Linked DNA regions of Homo sapiens. The gene in region 1 interacts genetically with each later gene. Each region holds a gene or a part of one and is shown on either strand. Other genes may lie near its edges.

Region 1 (5,365 bases):
ACACCATGGTCTCTTACCATGAGGATTCTTCTATAGCTGTCTCGGTCGATGCCCCACAATTTCACATTTGTCTTTGCTTTGACAGTGGCTGCTCTCGGTGTTCCATAAATCAAAGCAAGTTCTCCAAAGCTCCCTCCTTCCCCAACACTGGTTGCCCATTCATTGTTAACATAGACCTAAAGTGCAAGTGACATCAAAAAAGTTTATTTTCTAGATACAAACACTTAAATGTTAAAAACCCTCAAACCTTTTTAAAAGGTCACAATCCTGAACTTTGTTTTAAAAAACAGAATATATTATGTTTGCAGTACACAACAGAGAAGAATAGGTGATTTCTGACGAGTTAAATGAGTTAAGAGTGTCTATAATTTACCTGATTTAATTATCTGATAAGAAAAAAGCACTCTGTAAGGATGTAAGGGAAAAAGGTCAGCTAAGCACTAATACCAGTCACAGATACTTAGAGAACCGTGCTGAGCACTATGCTAAACATTTTACTTGCATTAGGTCACTGAATCTTCTAATAATCCTAAAAGATCAATGCTATTATTGTCCCCATTTCATTTGTGAATAAGAAAGGTATATTAATTTTGCTAGCTAATGGCTGGGTCTAGAATCTTTTTTTTTTTTTTTTTTTAAGAGATGAGGTTTCACTTTGTTGCCCAGGCTGGTCTTGAACTCCTGGGCTCAAGCAACCCTCTTGCCTCCATCTCCCAAAGTGCTGGGATTATAGGCATCGGCCACTGCACCCAGCTACACACACTTCTTCACCACCACTCCAGCAAAGTTCTGAACAGAAAATTACCTTTAAAGAGTTTCTCTGTGTCATAAAAATACTTGGCAAAAGGTATTAATAAAATCTGACATACAAGGGATGTAATGACCCTTCAAAATCACTATTCTTATTGCTCGGAAGCGATCAATACATTGGCTTTTAAGATCAACATATTTTTGATATTGGTAAATCTTACATCCGTCTCTCCTTGATCAATCACATAGAAGTTATCCCCTTCATCACCTAAAAGAGGGTAAAAAAGTTAGAAGCATATTCCAAATTAAAGAAAGAAATTATCAAAATTATTACAAAACAATAAACTTATTTTACAGTGGTACTGTGAGAGTGTGTTACAAACTAACACAATCTTTCAGGGGAAAGAAAATCAAGCAACATATTTTAAAAGTCATAGAATTAATCAAAATTTTTTTAGTCATCTCATGGTGAAGAATACCTCTGAAAAAAATTTTTAAAAGCTACATATGTGTAGTTATTAACTGCTATGGCATTTATAACAAGGACATTAGAAACAACTCAAATAGTTAATAACAAATTATCAGGCTGCCACAAAATGAAAATATATACCCACTCATAAAATGTCAAGAATAAATAAGAAAATAAAAAGAGGAAGATAGTCAAAAAGTTAGATCCATGTTAGTCTATATAGGCAAAGTAAGAATCTATAGAAGTCCTAGAACCTTTTTAATAGACAGGGCTATACAATGAAGAATGTAGGTGTTTCATTTATTTCTTACTTTAAAAGTGATTAACAATATAAAGAACATGAGAGATATATATGATTCTGCAATTCTATATGACATTCAAGGTAAGACAATGTAGGCATTTCCTTTAAATTATAAACAAAACTGTATCAAAAATATTAGTTCCCAATACAAAGTGTTCTGTCCATCTCAGAAAATCTTAATTTAAAAGAAATAGAAAAATCCAATAGTATAACAGAAAAAAAAAAGTGGTAGGATCAAAGAGGAAAACAAACTTCAATAAAACAAAACCAAAAAAATCCTCTAGTCTCGCCTCCTCTCCCGTAACAATATTGCATGCTCCAGAGGCCCTTACCTTGCTGAATCACAGTCTCTCCTGCGATAAAGGAGACCGAAAACATGGCATCAAAAATATCACTGCAAAAGAGAGAAGGCCTCGTGTTACATTTCACATGTCTCTTCCGTGAATTTCAAACATTAAGCTTAGAATTAAAGACCCCAGACTGTCATCTGGTGAACAATTACTAAGAGCTCTAAAACTTGCAACAAGTGTTGAAAACAATTTGGGATCACACCCTTACTTGAAAAATAGTGTTAAGAAAGAGCCTGTTCCTACCTTCTCTCATTATCATCAAGATGTGAAAACAGCACATTCTTTTCAATGGCTTTGGCTAAAGCGGCCATTGTCTTGTAATCTTTTGGTATAACCTAGAAAAGAACTGAAGGTCAAATGACAATTCCATAAACCAAAAACATTTCACGTTTGCAACCTGCGCTTCAATTAAATGTCAAGCCACATTATGGTATTTAAACAAGACTGCTTTGTAGTGTTTCACTACAACACACTTGTACTATCTTTGATCCATAAACTACTCAACAAGTATTGACTAATTAATCCCCTTGCCTACAGCCAGGCCTAAATATAAAGTCTGGTACTTGGTTCCCAGTTAACAACTAAAGAAACAAATCAAAACACCTGGACCAAGGTCATTATTCTGAGGCAAAACTAAGTATTTTATAATAATTAGTCATTTTAAAAATCTGTGATCTGTTAGCTTCACAAGCCTCAAGTGCCAGGACAATTCTGTTCCCCTTTAAGGCTAACAGCATAACTCAAAATAGCCTGGCTCTGAGGAAGAGGAGAACACAGGACAAATGAGGCTCGTAGAATAAAAGGTTAAAAGCCACAACATTTAATAGGATAGCAAAAAAAGGACATCACGATTCAAGAGAAAAAGCAATACCGCCCACCTCCTTCTACTGCAAAACAACTGCAAGGAAATAACAAACCCCAAAATGCAATTATTCACTAGTTCATAATCACTATTAGTTATTTCCTCTGACAGCATGCTATTACAGAAACCTGTTTTCCAGTACCCAAGAATTGTACAGGATGGATGAAGTTCCACCCTGTTTTGTATTTTATGATTCATTCATCAAAGGAGACTAGATGACCACCAAGTGGGTCCCAAAAGCATCCCCCCGATATTCAAATATCAAAACTACCTTTCTAACATAGGATGCCGCATCTTCCTCCGTGTAGACCTCAGCGCTGATAGCACCTCGTCGCCTCCTACCTTTAACCACTGGGTTGGGTGGAGGAGGAGAAATCTCATCCTCCCTTGAGTCTGTACGAGTGCCTGCTTTCTGCAGATTCTGAATCTGTTTTGCCTCCTCCTGAAAGAAATTACGAGTTTGCAAAATGAGATCCTTCGGCATGTAAAGCTGGCACTCTCATGTTCCAATGATAGTCTATCTCAGTCACTTCCAATCTCTTCTTCCATTAACAATGTAAGTTAAGAGGAAAACACCAATTCCAAAGGGGAAAAAAAGAGAGTAACACTTGAAACACTCTCAACAGAATGTACCTCAGATGATAACAGATGCTATCCTTTATTAATGGGCAAAAGTCATTAGTACAAGCCATTAGTACTCACATAACATGTGAGTAACAAATCAGATATTCATTAATGTCTTGACAACAATTATCTGTGATGCACACAACAGTAACACACTGCAAGACAAAATCCTGAAAATTGGGTTTTTTTGGATGCTACTGCAGATAGCAAGAGACCCTCCTGCCAAAAGAAATGTTATCAGGAAAAACAATTCAAGCCCAACATAGTGATCCAAGAATGTCTAGATTACTGAGTTATTTCATTAACTCAATAAGCCATTTTCTGGATCTGCCAGGCCAAGACCTATGCTAGGCAACAGGAAATTAAAAACAAATAGGAGAGGGTCCTGAGCCTGTGGAATTCACATTCCAGTTTGATCCCAGATAAAAACAAATAATGAAATGATGTGATGGTAACCACGAATTTAAACGAGATCGTATCTATAATACTTCTCCCAGCAGAGCTAGGATCACTCTTTGTAATCAAGGTTTAAACTTGAAGTTAAAAGACAAAAAGAGTTTACTTGCTTTTAAAAACTACTTATTGGACCAATTCAAATAAAACCTAAGATAAACTATTAAACATTCCTTTTTTCACATCTAGAGCCTTAAAAACAAATTCCTCTCAGATCTAAAGAATTAGTTGTTGTGCCTGAAGTAAAAGGGAAAAAATAAAAATGTGTTATCTTCTACTTTCTCATTCATTTGACCCGTTATTTCTTTTCTATATATAAATTTGTAAGTGCCCATATATTAATCTCCAGAACATTGGCAGCATTCAAGAAAAGCAATGGCGTGGGAGGGAGACCTTTCATTATTATGCCCCTTTGTACCTGCACAACTTTGAAATATGTGAATATGTAACCTACTTTTTAAAATATGGTTTTTAGAAAACTCATTTCATGTTAATTCTGGTTGTTCCAATAACCAGTAAGGTTTTCTCATTTCATATTAACACAGGTATAAAACTCAAGTCTCTCCCAAGTTTAAAGTTTAAGAATACATGACTGGGTACAGTGGCTTACGCCTATAATCACAACCCTTTGGGAGGCCGAAGGTGGCAGATCACTTGAGTCCAGGAGTTCGAGACCCGCCTAGGCAACATTGTAAAACCTCATCTCTACAAAAACACATAAAAATTAGTTGGGCGTGGTGGCACACACCTGTAGTCCCAGCTACTTGGGAAGCTGAGGCAGGAGGATCACCTGAGCCTGGAAGGTAGAGACTGCAGTGAGCCATGATCGCACCACTGCACTCAGGCCTGGGCAACAGAGTGAGATCCTGTCTCAAAAAATAGGCCAGGCATGGTGGCTCACACCTGTAATCCCAACACTTCGGGAGGCCAAGGTGGGCAGACCACAAGGTCAGGAGTTCAAGACCAGACTGGCCATTATGGTGAAACCCCATCTCTACTAAAAATACAAAAATTAGCCAGGTGTGGTGGCAGGCACCTGTAGCCCCAGCTACTCAGGAGGCAGAGGCAGGAGAATCGCCTGAACCCAGGAGGCAGAGGTTGCAGTGAGCCGAGATTGCACCACTGCAGTCCAGCCTGGGTGACAGAGCAAGACTGTCTCAAAAAAATAATAATAAAAATAAAATAAAACACACACACAGTTTAAGAGTATAAATGAAAACACAAATTCTCCCACCCCCAAATTTGTCACTGACATTTCACAAAAATTTCAGGAAAAATTTCACAAATAACATTTCACTTGGGACTACATTCTACTTCACTGAATTTTTAAGATTAATTTTGAAGTAACAAAAGCATTCTGATTTTAGCAGTGTCTCATGGATTCTAGTGAGTCTTTTAAAAACAGCAATCTGAATATAACCTAATCTGACAACTCAGAGCCATTACTCAGATCATGAGTTTTCTAGTATATACTATGATATATTTTTATATCCTTTCTCTTGCTGTTGTCATCCTTCTGTCAGTCTCCTTCCTCCTCAGCTCTTTAAGTGAGGTGA
Region 2 (6,035 bases), on another chromosome or scaffold:
CACAGGGTGGGCAGCAGGAAGAGCAGCAGCAGGAAGAGCAGCAGCAGCAGCATCCATGCCCCTGGCCACAAATCCATTCTGGCCACCTGCAGGGGATGGGGCAAGGGACAATCAGCCTGGTTTCTGGAGGAGAGTGGGGTAGGCAAGGCACAGAAGGCAGGGCTGGGGGCTGGTGCTATGAGGACAAGGGCCTGAGACACAAACTGGGGCAGGGGTCTCATTGAAACCTTCCCAGGAAGGCTCTCTAGGATGAGGGTGGTGGAGAAAGAGCTCAGGACTGCTCTCCCACCACTCTTCCCAAAGGCTCCGGATATATTCAGACAAGAGACACAAGACACAGACATCTACAATTCACAGATACCTGATAATAAATGACAACAAGAATAATAGCTAACACTTGTAGCTGGTAAGGGTCTTATAATGGTCTATACTTGTGCTGTCCGAGAAAGTAGCCACCACCTACATGTGGCTACTTGAAATGCAGCTAGTCTGAACTGAGATGTGCTGGAAATGTAAAATACACATCAGATTTCAAAGACTGAATAAAAAACAAAATGTGAGATATCCATTACTAATCTTTTATGCTGACTACATTTTGAAATTATAATCTTGGGCCGGGCGCAGTGGCTCACGCCTGTAATCCCAGCACTTTGGGAAGCCGAGGTGGGCAGATCACGAGGTCAGGAGTTCAGGACCAGCCTGACCAACATGGTGAAACCCCGTCTCTACTAAAAATACAAAAATTAGCCGGGCCTGTTGGCGCATGCCTTTAATCCCAGCTACTCGGGAGGCTGAGGCAGGAGAATCGCTTGAATCCGGGAGGCGGAGGTTGCAGTGAGCCAAGATCACGCCACTGCACTCTAGCCTGGGCAATGGAGTGAGACTCCATTTCCAAAAAAAAAAAAAGAAATTATAATCTTTTGGATGTTATCAGATTCAAGAAAATATATTACTAAAATTAATTTCACTCTTTTTGCCTTGTAAAAATGTGGCTACCATAAAAAAATTACATTGTGGCTTGCATTATATTTCTGTAGAACAGTACTGGTCTATACATTAAGTTAAACTCTTAAAATGATGCATATGATAGTCTAGAAAGTACTATTACTATTTACATTTTATAGGAAATAGGCCCAGGGAGGCTAAATAACTTACCTGAGGTCATACAGCTCCTAAACAGCAGTTTCTAGGTTAAATCTAAGCCGCCTGTGTTCCTAACCACTCCATTACGCTGACACTGGTATGTATTGCATATATATATACGAACACAGCACACAGCATATATGGTGATTGTGACAGAACACTCACAGCCATATACCCAAGGGCCAAATGGCAAGATTAAAAGTTCGTGTCACTAATGCCAACAGACACACAGTCATACAAAGACTAACATGTTCACACATAGACACAAATTTATAATTACACCCAGTGACAGATAAAAGAATGTAAATGCATAACTAGAAAAATCCCTCTCCACCCAGGCAGCTCCCCTATTCCTAGGTAAACTTATGGACATACCTGGAATAGCTACAAAGACCAATCCTACCTCCAGACAGGCAAACGAATCCTACTACCCTTTCCCTTCCTTCTAGTGACACTTTGCGTGGGCAGGTACAGTGTGTGAGGCCTCACCAAGTGAAAAAAGGAGGGAATGGAGTAAAGGTGACCTAACAGCACTTGCCCTGGGAGAGGAAAGGGCTCAAGAGGAAGAGAGGCAGGAACACAGAACCTGTGTTCTAGGTTCTTCCTCCTTCCTCCACTCTGCCCCAGTGTTGGGGGCAGGGTAACAATTCACAAAAAGGGTGTTCAGGCAAATACCTGTCATTCCTACTGAGGCCACAGGCACTGTCTTCCCATGATGGGAAGGGCTATGCTCAAAGGTAAGCCTATTGCCAAGCGAGAAGGTAACAGGCAATAGAGGAAACAGGAGACCCTGCCAGTTGGAATACCGTAGGCTTTCTGAGCTGCTCCATCCCACTGCCCCTACAAGTTCAGAACAGCATCATTTCTCCCCTGAACTATGTGGAGTAGGCTCCCAACTCCCTCCAATCCATCTTCCACGTAGCAACCACAGAGATTTTTCTGTTAGCACAGATTTTTCTGAAACACAGAGCATTTCCCTGTCTTGCCTAAAGGCTCTTCTTGATAAGTTGACTTCTGCTTACATCTTCGACCACATCCTCACAAAACTCTTTGTTCCAGTCAAACTGATTCACTTCAGTTCCTCAGACACCATGATCTTTCATGCTTCCCCACCTTGAACATGCTGTTCCCTTTGGCTGGAATGCCTGTCTCTTCTCCTGCCTCACACAGCTCAGTGTCACCTTTTGGAGGGCTGCCTGAACCCCTCCAGGCCTGTGCTTTCCTTACACTTTTATCTTGATCAGCGGGTCTCGAAGTATAGAAATGCAAATTATTAGACTTCACCCCAGATCTACTGAATCAGAAATTCTGGGCATTAGGTCCAGCAATCTGTTTTTCTTTTTCTCACTCTGTCACTCAGGCTGGTTTTGAACTCCTGGACTCACGCGATCCTCCTGCCTCAGCCTTCCAAACTGTTGGGATTACAGGTGTGAGCCATCGTGGCTGGCTAGCAATCTGTATTTCAACAAGCCCTCTGGTGAGTCTGATGTGCGCCTGAATTTAAGAACCACTGATCTTGACAACACACTATGTGTTGACTGGCGTTTTTGTTTCCCTCCTTAGGCTGTAAGCAGCTTAAGGACAGGGACTCTGTCTTATCTCCAGTGCCAGGACAATAGGAGATGGAGTAGGTGCTCAATAAACACTTGCTGAACAGATTCTAAGGCTGTATACCCACCCATAGAGCCACAGTTAATGACAGAGATGGCGGTTCTGATCACAAATTAGATAGTTATCCTCTTGAGTAGAAGTGACTACTAAAAGAAGTCACTGAGAAAGTAACGAACACACCAAGCCTAATGGTAACCGACTCTGAATAGATACATGCAATACATAGCCATAATGAAGGCAGAGTAACAATAATCAGGAAGAGGTCATCTCACAAGAGAAATGTACCGAATGGGATCAAGATGCCACAGGGAAAGATGCTGCTCTCATCAAATGTGTGCCAACAGTGCAAAGAATGGAGGATAATGTCCATAAATAAATACCAACAATGGGGTTCACAGCAGGATTGACCCTGTGACATGCATTGAGCTCATGGACACAGACTGTACACAGCCACTGGAAAGATAATGTTTGTGTAGAGAGGTATGGGCCAGGGAGGTCACCAAGGTAAGGCATGCAGGGATGGTTCTTTGCAGACCTGGAGACCCAGTTACCTTCTTCTCTTAACACTTGATATTAAGTGACCCTCTTTGGAGAACAAAAGTCCAAGGATTTAGAAATGCAATGGAGGGCCAAATTTAATGAGCATACGGCTCACAAAATATACTGATGACAAATTTATAACACACATTCTATGGTCCTGTTACATCAGTGTATCATGCAAAGGCGCATACACATGTGTTCTGTGAACTGTGACTGGGAAAACACAGCAAACAGGCCAATTCAGTCAGACATCAGAGTGTGGGGTATTCAGCCAAGCCATGGGATCCCACACATGAAGACTACTGCAAATGGTAGGACCATGGACATGTCAGCCAAAGCAAAATAAGGTATATAACCTTCACATGCTGAAATAAACATGCCAAAACATAAAATGTGCAAGTAACATGAAATTATAGAACAGGTGCAATATATGAAAACTCACACACATGCGGTACTTAAAACATGTCAAAACTGGATGTGAGACATGGACACAAGAATGAAGAATGGGCAATTCTGATAGAAAATAACACACCATTTCTACACAGCCTATGGATAGCATTGGGACAACCTAGTTGCACACAAGCCATTAAACATGTCAAAGGCACACAGACTCAATGTAGAAAACATGGCTCCCATAAGGCATTTGTGTGTCAGTAAGGGTCTAGCAGTGTGGAAGGCCACTGAGAAACAAGAGGTCCTGTGCCTAGATGGAAACAGAGGCACCTAAGGGTATTCCTAAGAGGCAAATTCTGCTGGCCTTCTCCCCTCATGACCCTTCAAGAGTCATGTGGGGTCAAAGGGCAAGAAAAGGAATTGGGGAAGGTGTAGGGAATTCCCTCTCCAGGATTCCCTGTGCACGCTCCCAGTCCCAAATTCACAAGGGTTTCCATTTCTCCTCCCTCCCAGGTCTCTTCCATCCTTCCTCCCTCTCAGGTCCCCTCTCCTATCCCCAGCAACCCTCTTCCCAGTCGGCCCCTCTCCTTTCCCCAGCAACCCTCTCCCCCAGTCGGCCCTCCCAGACCCAATCTCTCCCCTTCCCCTCATCCTAGTCGCTTTCAGCACCCTCTTCCCTCCTCCTCCCATCCCTTTCCCGCCCACACCTCAGAGGGGTAGGGGGCCTGGGGGGCTGGCCCCCTCCCCAGCCAGGCTGCGGCAGCGGTGGTGGCGGATGGCTGTGTCTCTGTCTCTGTCGGGGTGTCGGTGCCAAGGGGGCGACGGGATTTGGGGGTGTCCTAGCCCCGGCCGATGGAGGGGAGGTGGGAGTGGGAGGTTGGGCCCATAGCGGTAGGAATGGTGGGGGGCTGTCCCCCCAGCACCCTCCCTCCCTCCCTTTCTGCTGTCTCTCTGAGGGCTGGGGCTGCTGCCGCCGCTATTCCCCCGCCACCCCTCCCCAACGCCTGCTGGTTTCCGGGGCCGGCCAGGAAGTGGAGGGCGGTGATGGGCAGCCTGTTTTGCCAATCGTCTCCCAGAAACTCTGGCATCTCCTCCCCACATCTACCAGTGTCCTCTTGCGAGCCCCGCCCCAGGGCTCTCCCTCGGTCTTTGCCCCCATCTCTGGCTCCAGCTGCATCTTTTTTTTCTCTAACTCCCTTTCAGCTCTGGATCCCCTGGTGCTGTATTCCTCCTTCCGCACATTCCTTCCTTTATTCTCCATCAGCTCTCTTTTAACTGCCACTTTTACTTGGTCTCTTTTTTTCTCAACTCCGGTTATCTGCTGCTTATTCCCCCCAACTATTCTTAAGGACCCCTTTTCCCGTACCCATTCAATTCTAAACATTTATCAAGCATCTACCTACCATATGACAAGCATTAAGTTCACCTCTCTTCTTTTTCTCTCCAGGACTCCATCTCACTCCATCTCACTCTCCAGTCCTCTGGTCTGGTTTCCTTTGCCCTTTGTCCCTCACTATCTCCCAGCAGTCCAGCTCCCCCCTCCACCTGCCTTCTCTGGCCTTTAAAGAGAAGAGATCTCTTTGGCCTTATCCCTGACCCTTTCCTTTTCCATGCTCTTTTACCTCTGTACCTTTTCTTTCCTACTTCCTTCGTATCAGTCTCCTTACTTGCCCAAGCTGAGACAACCCCTTCTCACAACATACAATATGGGTACATCTTTTCTTCCAATGGAAATTTGGCTTCAGGGGTGCTTTCTAGAAAAATAAAAAGTGAGGAAGAATGCCGATTCCTCTGGAATGCGCGTGCCTCCTTAATTTGGTAGCCATGTATCTAGTTTTCCACCCCCTCTTCTCTTCCTCCACTCCCATTATCCCTTTACTAGGATCATTCCATCACTTCACTCTCCTTCATTTCCACCTTTCCCTCTCAATATCTTCCTTCCTAAACCTCAAGCTTCCTGAATCCTCATCTGCCCCAGTCCTTCTTTACGCAACTGCTAACTTCTCATCTTTCCTTACTCTTGAGTCACATGGGATCTTTTATCAAGGTCCCCCCTCTAGCCACACCTTTACCCTGCATTAGTTTACATGCCCTCGGGAAGAGGATTGGTAGTGGGAGGACTGTTACCTAATTCTGCTCCTTTAGTCACAGTGAGGGTCAGTGATTGTAGGAAAAGCCCAAACTCCCCGGGGTCCAACCTGGGAAGAAGACCCTATTTCTGATGGGCAAATTATAAAGAGGAAAGGGCGGGTCTAGCCTCCGCGGGTCTCCTTAAAAGGGGCGGGCTTTGTCCCTTTTGCACCACTCACAAAGGGGTTGAGCCCAGAGCTTTCCTGCTCTGAAGGTTT
Region 3 (5,365 bases), on another chromosome or scaffold:
CTCAAGCTTGTAATCCCAGCACTCTGGGAGGCCAAGGCCTGCGGATCACCTGAGGCCAGGAGTTCGAGATCAGCCTGGCCAACATGGTGAAACCCCATCTCTACTAAAAATACAAAAATTAGCCAGGCATGGTGATGCGCACCTGTAATCCCAGCTACTCGGGAGACTGAGGCAGGAGAATCATTTGAACCCGGGAGGCAGAGGTTGCAGTGAGCCGAGATCGCGCTGCACTCCAGCCTGGGTGACAGAGTGAGACTCCGTCTCAAAAAAAAAAAAGAAAAAACAGGGTCTCACTCTTGCCCAGGCTGGAAAGCAGTGGCACAATCACAGCCTACTGCAGCTGCAACCTCCTGGGCTAAAGTGATCTTCCCACCTCAGCTTCCCAAGTAGCCTCCACCATGGCTGGCTAATTTTTTTATTTTTATTTATTTATTTATTTTGAGGTGGAGTTTCGCTCTTGTTGCCCAGGCTGGAGTGCAATGGCACGATCTTGGCTCACTGCAACCTCCGCCTCCCGGGTTCAAGCAGTTCTCCTGCCTCAACCTCCCAAGTAGCTGGGATTACAGGCATGCGCCACCACACCCAGCTACTTTTGTATTTTTCATAGAGATGAGGTTTCTCCATGTTGGTCAGGCTGGTCTCAAACTCCCGACCTCAGGTGATACGCCGGCCTCGGCCTCCCAAAGTGCTGGGATTACAGGCATGAGCCACTGCACCCGGCCAATTTTTTTATTTTTTCTAGAGACTAGGTCTCCCTCTGTTGCCCAGGCTGGTCTTGAACTCCTGAGCTCAAGGGATTCTCCCACCTCAGTCTCTCAAAGTGTTGAGCTTACAGGCATGAGCCACCGCGCCCAGCCTGGGAGCCCTTCCATAAGTGATTTCAGACCTTCTCTCCAGGCAGGTGTTCCAGTGGGATAATTTAGGAATCAGAGAAACTGAGGGGTTGAGGAGGATACTTATTATTTATTATTTAGGTGCACTGGCCCAGTCAGATTAACATCGAAAAAGACTGAGCACCGAACAAAGAGTCAAGTTACATTTTAAGTATTTCGTGGGGTAGGGGGAGATCTGTGCAGGGGGAAGCATATTATAGCAGCGAGAAACAAAGACAGTTATTCAATTGAGACATGCATTACATTATTTCTTACTTTTCAAGGAAAAACATGTTTTAGGACTTGAGTTTATCCTGTCTAGTGACCTTGCAGCTGCACAGTTAGAGAAACAGGGTCTTCACGATGCCTGGGAAAGGGAGTTAGATAAGGCTCACTAGCCACAAACAGAAAAACAGGCAGTTAATTTTTAAAGGACTCAATCTCGGGCCGGGCGCAGTGGCTCACGCCTGTAATCCCAGCACTTTGGGAGGCCGAGATGGGCGGATCACGAGGTCAGGAGATCGAGACCATCCTGGCTAACACGGTGAAACCCCGTCTCTACTAAAAATACAAAAAAAATTAGCCGGGCATGGTGGCGCGCGCCTGTAGTCCCAGCTACACACGGGAGGCTGAGGCAGGAGAATGGCGTGAACCCGGGAGGCGGAGCTTGCAGTGAGTCGAGATCGCGCCACTGCACTCCAGCCTGGGCGACAGAGCGAAACTCCGTCTCAAAAAAAAAAAAAATAAAAAAAAATAAAGGACTCAATCTCTTTCTCTTCCTCAGGGGGAATTGGGTTTTTTACATACAACTGAGTTTTTGCTTACACATTCTTTAATTTCTTTTAATTCCTGTTTCAGTGTGAATAGCTTTCTCCCTACTTCCCAGACAGGACAGCTGAGGCCAAGAATTCAGGGGCTTCCCAGCAGTCACACAGCAAGTGTGTGTGAGCTGCAGGGTCCTTTCTCCTTTTCCTCCTCCCTGTCCTCTCGTCTGTGTGACTTAGGCTCTATGTTTGAATCTCAGCTTCTTTGCCCAGTGTCTCTGCCTTTCCTTCTCCCAGGGCCCCAAGCTCAGTTGCTGTGCCCCAGTCTCAGTCTTACTGGGTTTCTGTTCCCCCTTCTCTCCGTGTCATTCCTTGGCACATACTATCTGGTGCTGTTGCTACTGTGGGTTGGATGCTAGGTACATGATTTGGCAATAAGCAAACTTCTTCCTACATTTGTCTCTCTTTTTTTTTTTTTTTTTTTTTTTTTTGAGACAGAGTCTTGGTCTGTTGCCCAGGCTGGAGTGCAGTGGCATCATCTCGGCTCACTGTAACCTCCGCCTCTTGGGTTCAAGCGATCTCCTGCCTCAGCCTCCTGAGTAGCTGGGATTACAGGTGCGTGCTACCACACCTGGCTAATTTTTGTATTTTTAGTAGAGATGGGGGTTTTGGACCAGTGAGGTGGCTCACGCCTGTAATCCCAGCACTTTGGGAGGCTGAGGCGGATGGATCACGAGGTCAGGAGATCCAGACTATCCTGGCTAACACGGTGAAACCCTGTCTCTACTAAAAATGTAAAAAATTAGCCGGACGTGGTGGCACGTGCCTCTAGTCCCAGCTACTCAGGAGGCTGAGGCAGGAGAATCGCTTGAACCAGGCAGGCGGTTCAGTGAGCCTAGATCGTGCCGCTGCACTCCAGCCTGGGTGACAGAGCCAGACTCCATCTCAAAAAAAAAAAAAAAAAAAGAGAGAGAGACGGGGGTTTCTCCATGTTGGTCAGGCTGGTCTCGGACTCCTGACCTGGCGATCCACCCGCCTCGGCCTCCCAGAGTGCTGGGATTACAGGCGTAAGCCACCACGCCTGGCCTACAGCCTACATTTGTCACTTTCTAGTGAGCTCTGTCCTTGTCTCCTAATGCATATCTCTTTCTCTCTATGCAATTCTGTTTCTAAGTCTCCTAATATATACTTGCCTTTCTTTCAATTTCACCATGTCTTTGCCTCGGTGCATCTGTCAACATCTTCACTTTCTGTCCCAGTTCCTCCCAGCCCCTGGGCTTCCAATATTCTCTCCCTCCCTCACCTTTGACCTAGAGATACTGTCCCCATCTCTCTGTCTCTGTCTTGCCATGTGACTGGTTCATTCACTGGGCAGATGTTTATCTCATGCCGCTTCCATTCTGGTTTGAGCCTGAGATAAATAAGTCTGAATTAATGAGCCTCTCCTTCGCGGCTTCCATTCCAGAAGTGTCTGTCTCCATCTGTCTCCGTGTCTGTCATTTTCAGGGTTTTCTTGTATCCTTACCTTGCACATTCTCAATCCCACTGTTTTGGTCTCTTGTTTATATCTCTGCTTTTCTCTGGGTCTCTCTGACTCTGTAACTGTCCGAAAAAAAAGTATCCTTCACTTTCCCCACTCTCCCTCTCCTCCCAGCTCTCTTATTGCCTCATCCAACCTCTGTGGGTCTCTGCCTTGCTCTGTGTCTGGATCGGATCTCTGGGCCTTTGTTACGCGTGTTAGAGTCTCTGTCTTTGCAGCTAAAGACCTCCTCCCTCACGCCCCTTTTCTTTTGTGAATTCAATGGATGAGACAGGCCCACTCTCCCTTAACAAAGATGGCGACAACGGCGCTGTCTATGGGGCCGCGACGTCGTCTCCGCTGCGCGTCGGCCCTCACCCACGATGGCGGCCAGTCTCCCGAAGCGCGAGGCCCCGCCCAGCTCTCGGCCTCTCCCGCGGCCGGTCCCTGCACCAAGCTCGCGAGCTGACTGGCTCCACCCCCCGCGCCCTCGTATTGGTGCGGCCCAGGCCGGCTGCACGGCCATTGGCTGAGCGGATGCACACCCTCCCCCCACCCCTAGGTCTGATGGGGGCTGTTGGTGCTGACTTGCGGGACCGCCTGGAGGAGGACCCGGCGTGTGAGGAGGGTGCGGGGGTCGGGGCAGGGACCGGAGTCTAGGGGACTGAGGGACCAAGAGGAACAGAGACTCAGGCCCGGGACTGGGGCACCGGGGTGGGAGATGGAAATGGAAAACCTGGGCCAGGACTGAACCCAGCCAGGCCTGGGACTGGGTTCTGGAAATAAGAGTGCGGATGGCGGTTTGGGGGCCCAGGGCCAGACACGCAGGCCTATGGATTGGGGACCAATGGATGGAGACCCAGGTCCAGGTCTCGGGGACCCAGGGACAGAGACCCAGGCCCAAGACTGGAGGACATCTAGGGCTCTGTGCTTGAACCTGATTTGAGGTTCCCATAATGGGGCCAGGGCAGGTTTGGGGGTGAAGCAGACGTCCTGGACCCGAGAGAGCCGCTGGGGATAGGGGGGCAGATGTAGTTCCTAAGGGTGAGTCCACAGGCGGTGGGGGGTGGGGGGCTGTCCTGGCGCTCTGGGCCTGGGGAATGTGAGGGGCAGGACTGGCAGGTGGCTGGGCGGGGCAGTGGGGAACAAAGGTGAGCGAAAGGAGGAGGCAGAATCCGGGCAGAGGGCAGGGAGAGGGCCTGTGGGGAAGGGACCTCAGTCCTGCTCCCACCCGCTCCCTGGAGAGCAGGCGGCCAGACACCCAGGTCAGTGCTCAGGGACCAGCTCTTGGCCCCTGCCCCTTGCAGGCGCTCGCATGTGGCTCCTCTCGGACCCCGTAGTCCCTGTCATATCCCTTCTCTCCAGCTGTCTCCATGCCTGCCTCGTACCCCTCCTATTTGCTCTCCCTTCCACTCTGTCTTGCCTTTCTCGTTGGGGTGAAAAAGTCTTACTCTCTTAAGTATCTTTCATCGCCTGAGTTTCACCTCATTGACCCTGTTTGTCTCCTCTCAGTGTTTCTCTGGCTCTCAGACCCTATCTCTATTGCGTTTGTGATTGTTTTGCTGTTTTACCCACTGCACCGTATGGGGGGTGGGGGTGTCGGGGAGGTGTGTCTTTCAGTCTTTGCATGTCTGTTTCTGCATATCCAATCCCACTATCCATTCCCCTTCCTGTGCCTTCTTTTCCCCCAAAGCCCGTTATCATCACCCAACCACCTGTATATTTCAATCCTTTCTCTTGTTTATCTATTCCTATGAAGGCAAGGATTTGGGGCTATTTTGTCTCCTGCTGTGTTTGCTAGGCCTAGCACCGTGATTGGCACATAAAGGGTACTGAATACTTACTGGGGAATAAATGATTGGATGTTTGCATGCCCGGGTCTCCGGCCCCCTCTGGGATGCTGGCCTCTGTCCCGCATCCTCAAGGTCTGCCCACACCTGTCTGAGCCTGTCTGTCTCTGATGCTCCTGTCTCACCTGCCACTGCCCCTCATTGTCTCCTCCTGTCCACAGCCCCTGCCCCTCCCTGCCCCTGCCATGGGGTCCTGAATTCTCACCCCTTCTCTCCTCCCTTCCCACAGAGGCCAGACCAGGAGCTGACCGGGAGCTGGGGCCACGGGCCTAGGAGCACCCTGGTCAGGGCTAAGGCCATGGCCCCGCCCCCACCGCCACTGGCTGCCAGCACCCCGCTCCTCCATGGCGAGTTTGGCTC
Region 4 (5,365 bases), on another chromosome or scaffold:
TCTGTATCCTTCTGCCACTTGCTTACTTTGCTCAACTTTTTTAAAGTTTTTTTTTATGTTAAAACTTTAATGTAGAGAAATGTCTAAGATTTACTCTAGGGTATATAAATCTGCTGGACCTAGGGGAGGCAAGTTCTCAACTTTCCTCAATAATGCCAAAATCTTTTAAGTGCGTATAGAAATTTATGGCACAACCAGCAGGCATTAGGACTCACATTTCTCTAACATCCTGGCTAACAATTGATATTGTCAGATTTATAAATTTTGGTTAATCTGAATAGTGTAAAGTAGTATAAAAATAATCTTTTTATAAGTTTCAAAAATATGTTTATTGGCCATTTGTGATTCCATTTTTGTGAATAACCTGTTCATATCCTATGCATTTTTTAATCTCTTTTTCTTAAAGATATTTTGAGGAGTTATTTATATATACTGAATACATATCCTATATTGGTTACATGCATTGTTCCCTGTGATTTCTTTGTTGATGGTATCTTTTATATTTATTCATATATTTATCATTTCCAGTGCTATATGCTTTTTCCTATAGATCCATTTGGTTTTATTTCCCTTCAGCCTAAAGACTTTAACATTTCTTGTAGTGAAGTTCTGCTGGCAACAAATTATCTCAGTTTTGATGTATCTAGAATTGTCTTTACTTCACCCCCATATTTTAAAGACATTATCAGTGGATATAGAGTTCTTGCTTGATTGGGTTTTTTTCTTTCAGCACTTTAATGTTATTCCATTATCTTTTGGCTTCCTTCAGCACTCACTCTTTCCCCTGATGTATCTTCTTTCTTAGGCTGCATTTATGACCTTTTCTTGTATTTCTGTTTTTCACCAATTTTACTATGATGTGCCAAGAGATAATTTTCTTTGATATTTATGCTCCTTGGGTTTTGCTGAGCTTCCTAGATCTGTGAGCTGTTTTTTATTTGTTTGTTTGTTTGAACAGATTTGGATAATATTTGACCACTAATTCTTCAACTATTATCCCTGCAACAGTATATCTCTCCTCTCCTGGGACTCTAATTAAAAGTATCTGGACCACTCAAGGCTGGGCACGGTGGCTCACACCTGTAATCCCAGCACTTCAGGAGGCCGAGGCAGGTGGATCACTTGAGGTCAGGAGTTTGACACCAGCCTGGACAACATGGGGAAACCCGGACTCAACTAAAAATACAAAAAGTAGCTGGGCATGGTGGGGCATGCCTGTAATCCCAGCTACTTGGGAGGTTGAGGCACGAGAATCGCTTGAACCCCGGAGGCAGAGGTTGCAGTGAGGTGAGATTGCACCACTGAACTCCAGCCTGGGCAACAGAGCAAGATTCGTCTCAAAAAAAAAAAAAAAAGTATTTAGACCACTAAATGCCACAGGTCATTGGAATTATTAATGACTTCATCTCTTTCTTTCCTCTGCTTCAATTTCAATGATTTCTAATAATCTGTTTTGAAGTTTATTGCTCTTTTATCGTATTGTGTCCTATCTGCTGTTAATCTGATTTGATGACATTTCAACTTCAGATATTGTACTTTTCAGTTCTAGAACTCCCATTTGGTTATTTCCAGTTTCCAAATATCTCCTATAATTCCTCATATTTTCACCCATTATGTTCATCTTTTCAAGTAGATTCTTTGATATAATTATCATTGTTATTTTTATGTCCTTGTCTGGTAATTCTAAACTCTGTTTTATCTATGGGTTTATTTCTATGAATAATTTTTTTCTTAATTATGAATCACACTTTCCTATTTCTTCACCACTTTAGTAGTTGAGAGTTTTTCTTTCTTTTTTTTCTTTTTTTCTTTTTTTTAATAAGACAAGGTATTTTTATATTGTCCAGGCAGGTCTTGAACTCCTAGGCTCAAGCCATCTTCGCACCTCAGCCTCCTGAGTAGCTGGAACAATGGGAACATGCCACCACACCCAGGTTGCTTAGTAATTTTTATGGTGTATTAGACATTTTGGATGATAAGCTGTAGAGAGTTTGGATTTGTTCTCCTCCTCTTAAGAGTATGTAGTTTTTTAATAAAAGGTAAATAAATTATTGGTGGTTCACCTTGTTCACACAAAGGCTTATCCCACTCAATGTCCAGGTCCTCCGGCAGCCTCAAACTCACTCTCAGGCCAATAAGACTGTGATTTCCTGCTAGAGTTCTATCTGTCCTGCTCCCTGCAGACCAGGGAATGTCTTGAGGGAAAAGCCATTTAAATGTGGAGTTTATCCTATGCGGTGCCCTTCATCCAAGGATGAAAACCTTTCCAGTTTCTAGCTACTTTTAATCACTCTTCAGTGCTTTCCAACTTTTTTCCAACATTTATAATTGTTATCAACAGGAAGATAAGCACAATAGAATCTACTCTGCTGTTTCCAAAAGCTACTACTTTGATGAGCAGAAGCCAATTTTCATGTAGACCATTTTCCCAGTCTTATCTTTTATGGTATATGGCGTTTTTAAGCCTTGTTTAAGAAATCTTTGCCCCAGTCAGGGCAACATGGTGAAACCCTCTCTCTACCAAAAATACAAACAATTAGCCAGGCGTGGTGGCACACACCTGTGGTCCCAGCTACTCAGGAGGCTGAGGTGGGAAGATCACTTGAGCTCAGGAGGTGGAGGTGGCAGTGGGCCGAGATTGCACCACTACACTACAGCCTGAGTGACGGAGCAAGACCTTGTCTCAAAAAAAAAAGAAAGAAATCTTTGCTTATCCAATAGTCATACATAATTTGTACACTTTATTCTAAAAATATTTTTCTAAAGTATTTTTTCATATTTTGGTATTTAACTCACTTAGATTTCATTTTTTTGTGCATGGCTTAAAATGGGGATAGAACTTTATTTTATTTTTCCAAGCAGATAAAGAAATTTTCCCAGTATCATTACTACAGATTCCATCCTTTCCTTTACAGCTCATGAAGCTGATTCTGCCATAAATCTAGACTCATGTATATCTTAGTCTGTTCCAGGCTGTCTCTTGTATTCCAGTGCTTTGTTTGTCTATGCCTATAGCCATACTGCAATATCTTAATCATTACAGCTTTATAATGAGTCTTGTTAACTGGTGGAGCAAGTCCTTCCACCTTGTGCTTTTCCAGAATTGCTTTGCCTATTCTCAGTCCTTTATTCTTTCAAATAAATTTTGGAATTGGTTTGTCAAATCACATGAAAACCCCTGCTGGGGGGAATTAAAATCTTTAAAATATCAAGCCTTCTCATCTACAAACTCGGTATATTTTTTCCTTTCATTCAGGTCTTTTAAACTGTCTTTATATAAATTTTTCTACAAAATTATATTTTATTATTTATATTACTTATTTAAAATATCTTTTTAAAATTATATTTCTTAAATTATCTTTTCATCTATTTATCCCAATTTACTATACTATGTTAAATGAATTTCATCAAATTATTTACTAAAGTTATAAACTCTAAGATTGGCCCGGTGGCTCACGCCTGTAATCCCAGCACTTGAGGAGGCAGAGGCAGTTGGATCACCTGAGGTCAGGAATTCAAGACCAGCCTGGCCAACAGGGCAAAACCCGTCTCTCCTAAAAATGTAAAAATTAGTGGGCGTGGTGGCGGGCACCTGTAATCCCAGTTACTGGAGAGGCTGAGGCAGGAGAATCGCTTGAACCTGGGAGGCAGAGGTTGCAGTGAGCTAAGATCACATGACTGCACTCCAGCCTGGGCAACAGAACAAGACTCCATCTCAAAAATAAAATAAAATAAAATAAAATCTAAGGTTTAGTTCATAATACACAATCTTATGGATTATAATAATACTTTAACACTCTCATTTGCAAATACTTTTTTATGCCATGGATTTACTAAGTAAGTAGCTCATTTATATACTATTTACTTACCAAGAAGCTCCATGGTCTCTGCTTTCAGTGTCCGTGAAATTAGAGTCCAAAAACATATCTTTGTAGATTCGACCAACTAGGCAATACATATCTGAAGCAACTTGTCCTTCGCTTTGCACCATGGGAATCATAATATCAAGAGCTTTTGCTCTGTCACCAGGGAGATTTCTCCTAAGGCAGAAAACATTGTTGTTTCAATATACATTACAGAAGCAATATAGATCAATTCTTTTTTAAAAACCCTATTTAACATGTTGATTCATATTAGAGAAATTTGCCAGGACAGAAACAATTAGATTTTGAGAGTCCTCTGTAAACCTCTGTCCTAAGCCTAATTTTTTGTTTTATCCCATTGTATGTCTACTAGGTCTAACAAGGATTTCTTTTGAGTTTCTGTGTTAATAATGGTGATGGATTTGTACTTACTCATCCACAATCCTTCCAATTTCCCTGCAGCCTATATGCAGGTTCAAGTTGGTGAAACGAGATTAGAGTTGTAGTCTGTGTCTTTGAATAGGGTAGAGTAAATAAAGCCAAGTAGGGACAAAACCCTGACCTTAGGTTTCAATGGCTTTTGCTCCAAAACTTAGCAAACTCATTCACAGATGATACCAAAAATCAAATCAAACCCAAGAACTGCTTGATTTCTACGTGTGACTAACTGATTATCTAAGGAAGTTGCTTTATGTAGCATGCTTTAAAATAGTATGTGTAGACAGTTCACAAAACCAGATAAAAATTCTATAAGAGTTATCATTCCTTAGACCTTGAAAATATTATGCTAAGTGAAAGAGGTCAGTCACAAGGGACCACATACTGTATGATTCCATTTATATGAAATGTCCAGAATAGGCAAATCTGTAAAGACTGAAAGTAGATTCGTGGTTGCCTAGAGTTGGGGGATTTGGGAGGGAAATGGAAGGGGGGCTGCTAATGGGTACAGGGTTTCCTTGTGGAGTGATGAAAATGTTTTAAAATTTATTGTTTTGATGAAATATATTTAGTTTGTTTGTTTGGAGACAGAGTCTTGCTCTGTTGCCCAGGCTGGAGGGCAGTGGCATGATCTTGGCTCACTGCAACTTCTGCCTCCCAGGTTCAAGCGATTCTCCTGCCTCAGCCTCCCGAGTAGCCGGAACTACAGGTGCACACTGCCACACCTGGCTAATTTTTTTGTATTTTAGTAGAGACGGGGTTTCACCGTGTTGCCCAGGCTGCTCTCGAACTCCTGAGCTCAGGCAATCCGACCACCTTGGCCTCTCAAAGTGCTAGGATTGCAGGAGTGAGCCACCACGCCCAGCCTGTGAAATATGTTTCAATAAAGCTATTATAAAAAAGGTATCATTTCTATTCTCAATTACTACTTCAAATCTTCTGTCCAAGAAATTCCTTTTTATCCTTGGTAATAACTATCTAACACTATGTTCACCTAGACATAACCATCCTTACTCTAGTGAAAACTTTTGTGTGAATGACCATCTGGTGTTGAGTGTATTTGC

What was found.
Region 2: changes in PRKAR1A (region 1) and AGPAT1 together harm fitness less than expected from each alone (positive genetic interaction), as found in Homo sapiens cells (one large-scale study listed by BioGRID).
Region 3: changes in PRKAR1A (region 1) and SPHK2 together harm fitness less than expected from each alone (positive genetic interaction), as found in Homo sapiens cells (one large-scale study listed by BioGRID).
Region 4: changes in PRKAR1A (region 1) and MAP3K5 together harm fitness less than expected from each alone (positive genetic interaction), as found in Homo sapiens cells (one large-scale study listed by BioGRID).

The regions. Positions count from the first base shown.
Region 1 is NC_000017.11:68,520,565-68,525,929, reverse strand, and holds part of PRKAR1A (cAMP-dependent protein kinase type I-alpha regulatory subunit), read right to left. Parts: intron 3,175-5,365; coding exon 3,004-3,174; intron 2,206-3,003; coding exon 2,114-2,205; intron 1,915-2,113; coding exon 1,853-1,914; intron 1,019-1,852; coding exon 972-1,018; intron 177-971; coding exon 18-176; intron 1-17. UniProt on the Homo sapiens protein: Regulatory subunit of the cAMP-dependent protein kinases involved in cAMP signaling in cells.
Region 2 is NC_000006.12:32,171,420-32,177,454, forward strand, and holds the start of AGPAT1 (1-acyl-sn-glycerol-3-phosphate acyltransferase alpha isoform 1 precursor), read right to left. Parts: upstream 4,666-6,035; 5' UTR 4,395-4,665; intron 1,698-4,394; exon of another isoform or gene 1,519-1,697; intron 87-1,518; coding exon of another isoform or gene 78-86; coding exon 1-77. UniProt on the Homo sapiens protein: Converts 1-acyl-sn-glycerol-3-phosphate (lysophosphatidic acid or LPA) into 1,2-diacyl-sn-glycerol-3-phosphate (phosphatidic acid or PA) by incorporating an acyl moiety at the sn-2 position of the glycerol backbone.
Region 3 is NC_000019.10:48,620,657-48,626,021, forward strand, and holds part of SPHK2 (sphingosine kinase 2), read left to right. Parts: intron 1-4,372; exon of another isoform or gene 4,373-4,420; intron 4,421-5,234; coding exon 5,235-5,365. UniProt on the Homo sapiens protein: Catalyzes the phosphorylation of sphingosine to form sphingosine-1-phosphate (SPP), a lipid mediator with both intra- and extracellular functions. Also acts on D-erythro-dihydrosphingosine, D-erythro-sphingosine and L-threo-dihydrosphingosine.
Region 4 is NC_000006.12:136,690,271-136,695,635, forward strand, and holds part of MAP3K5 (mitogen-activated protein kinase kinase kinase 5), read right to left. Parts: intron 4,041-5,365; coding exon 3,870-4,040; intron 1-3,869. UniProt on the Homo sapiens protein: Serine/threonine kinase which acts as an essential component of the MAP kinase signal transduction pathway. Plays an important role in the cascades of cellular responses evoked by changes in the environment.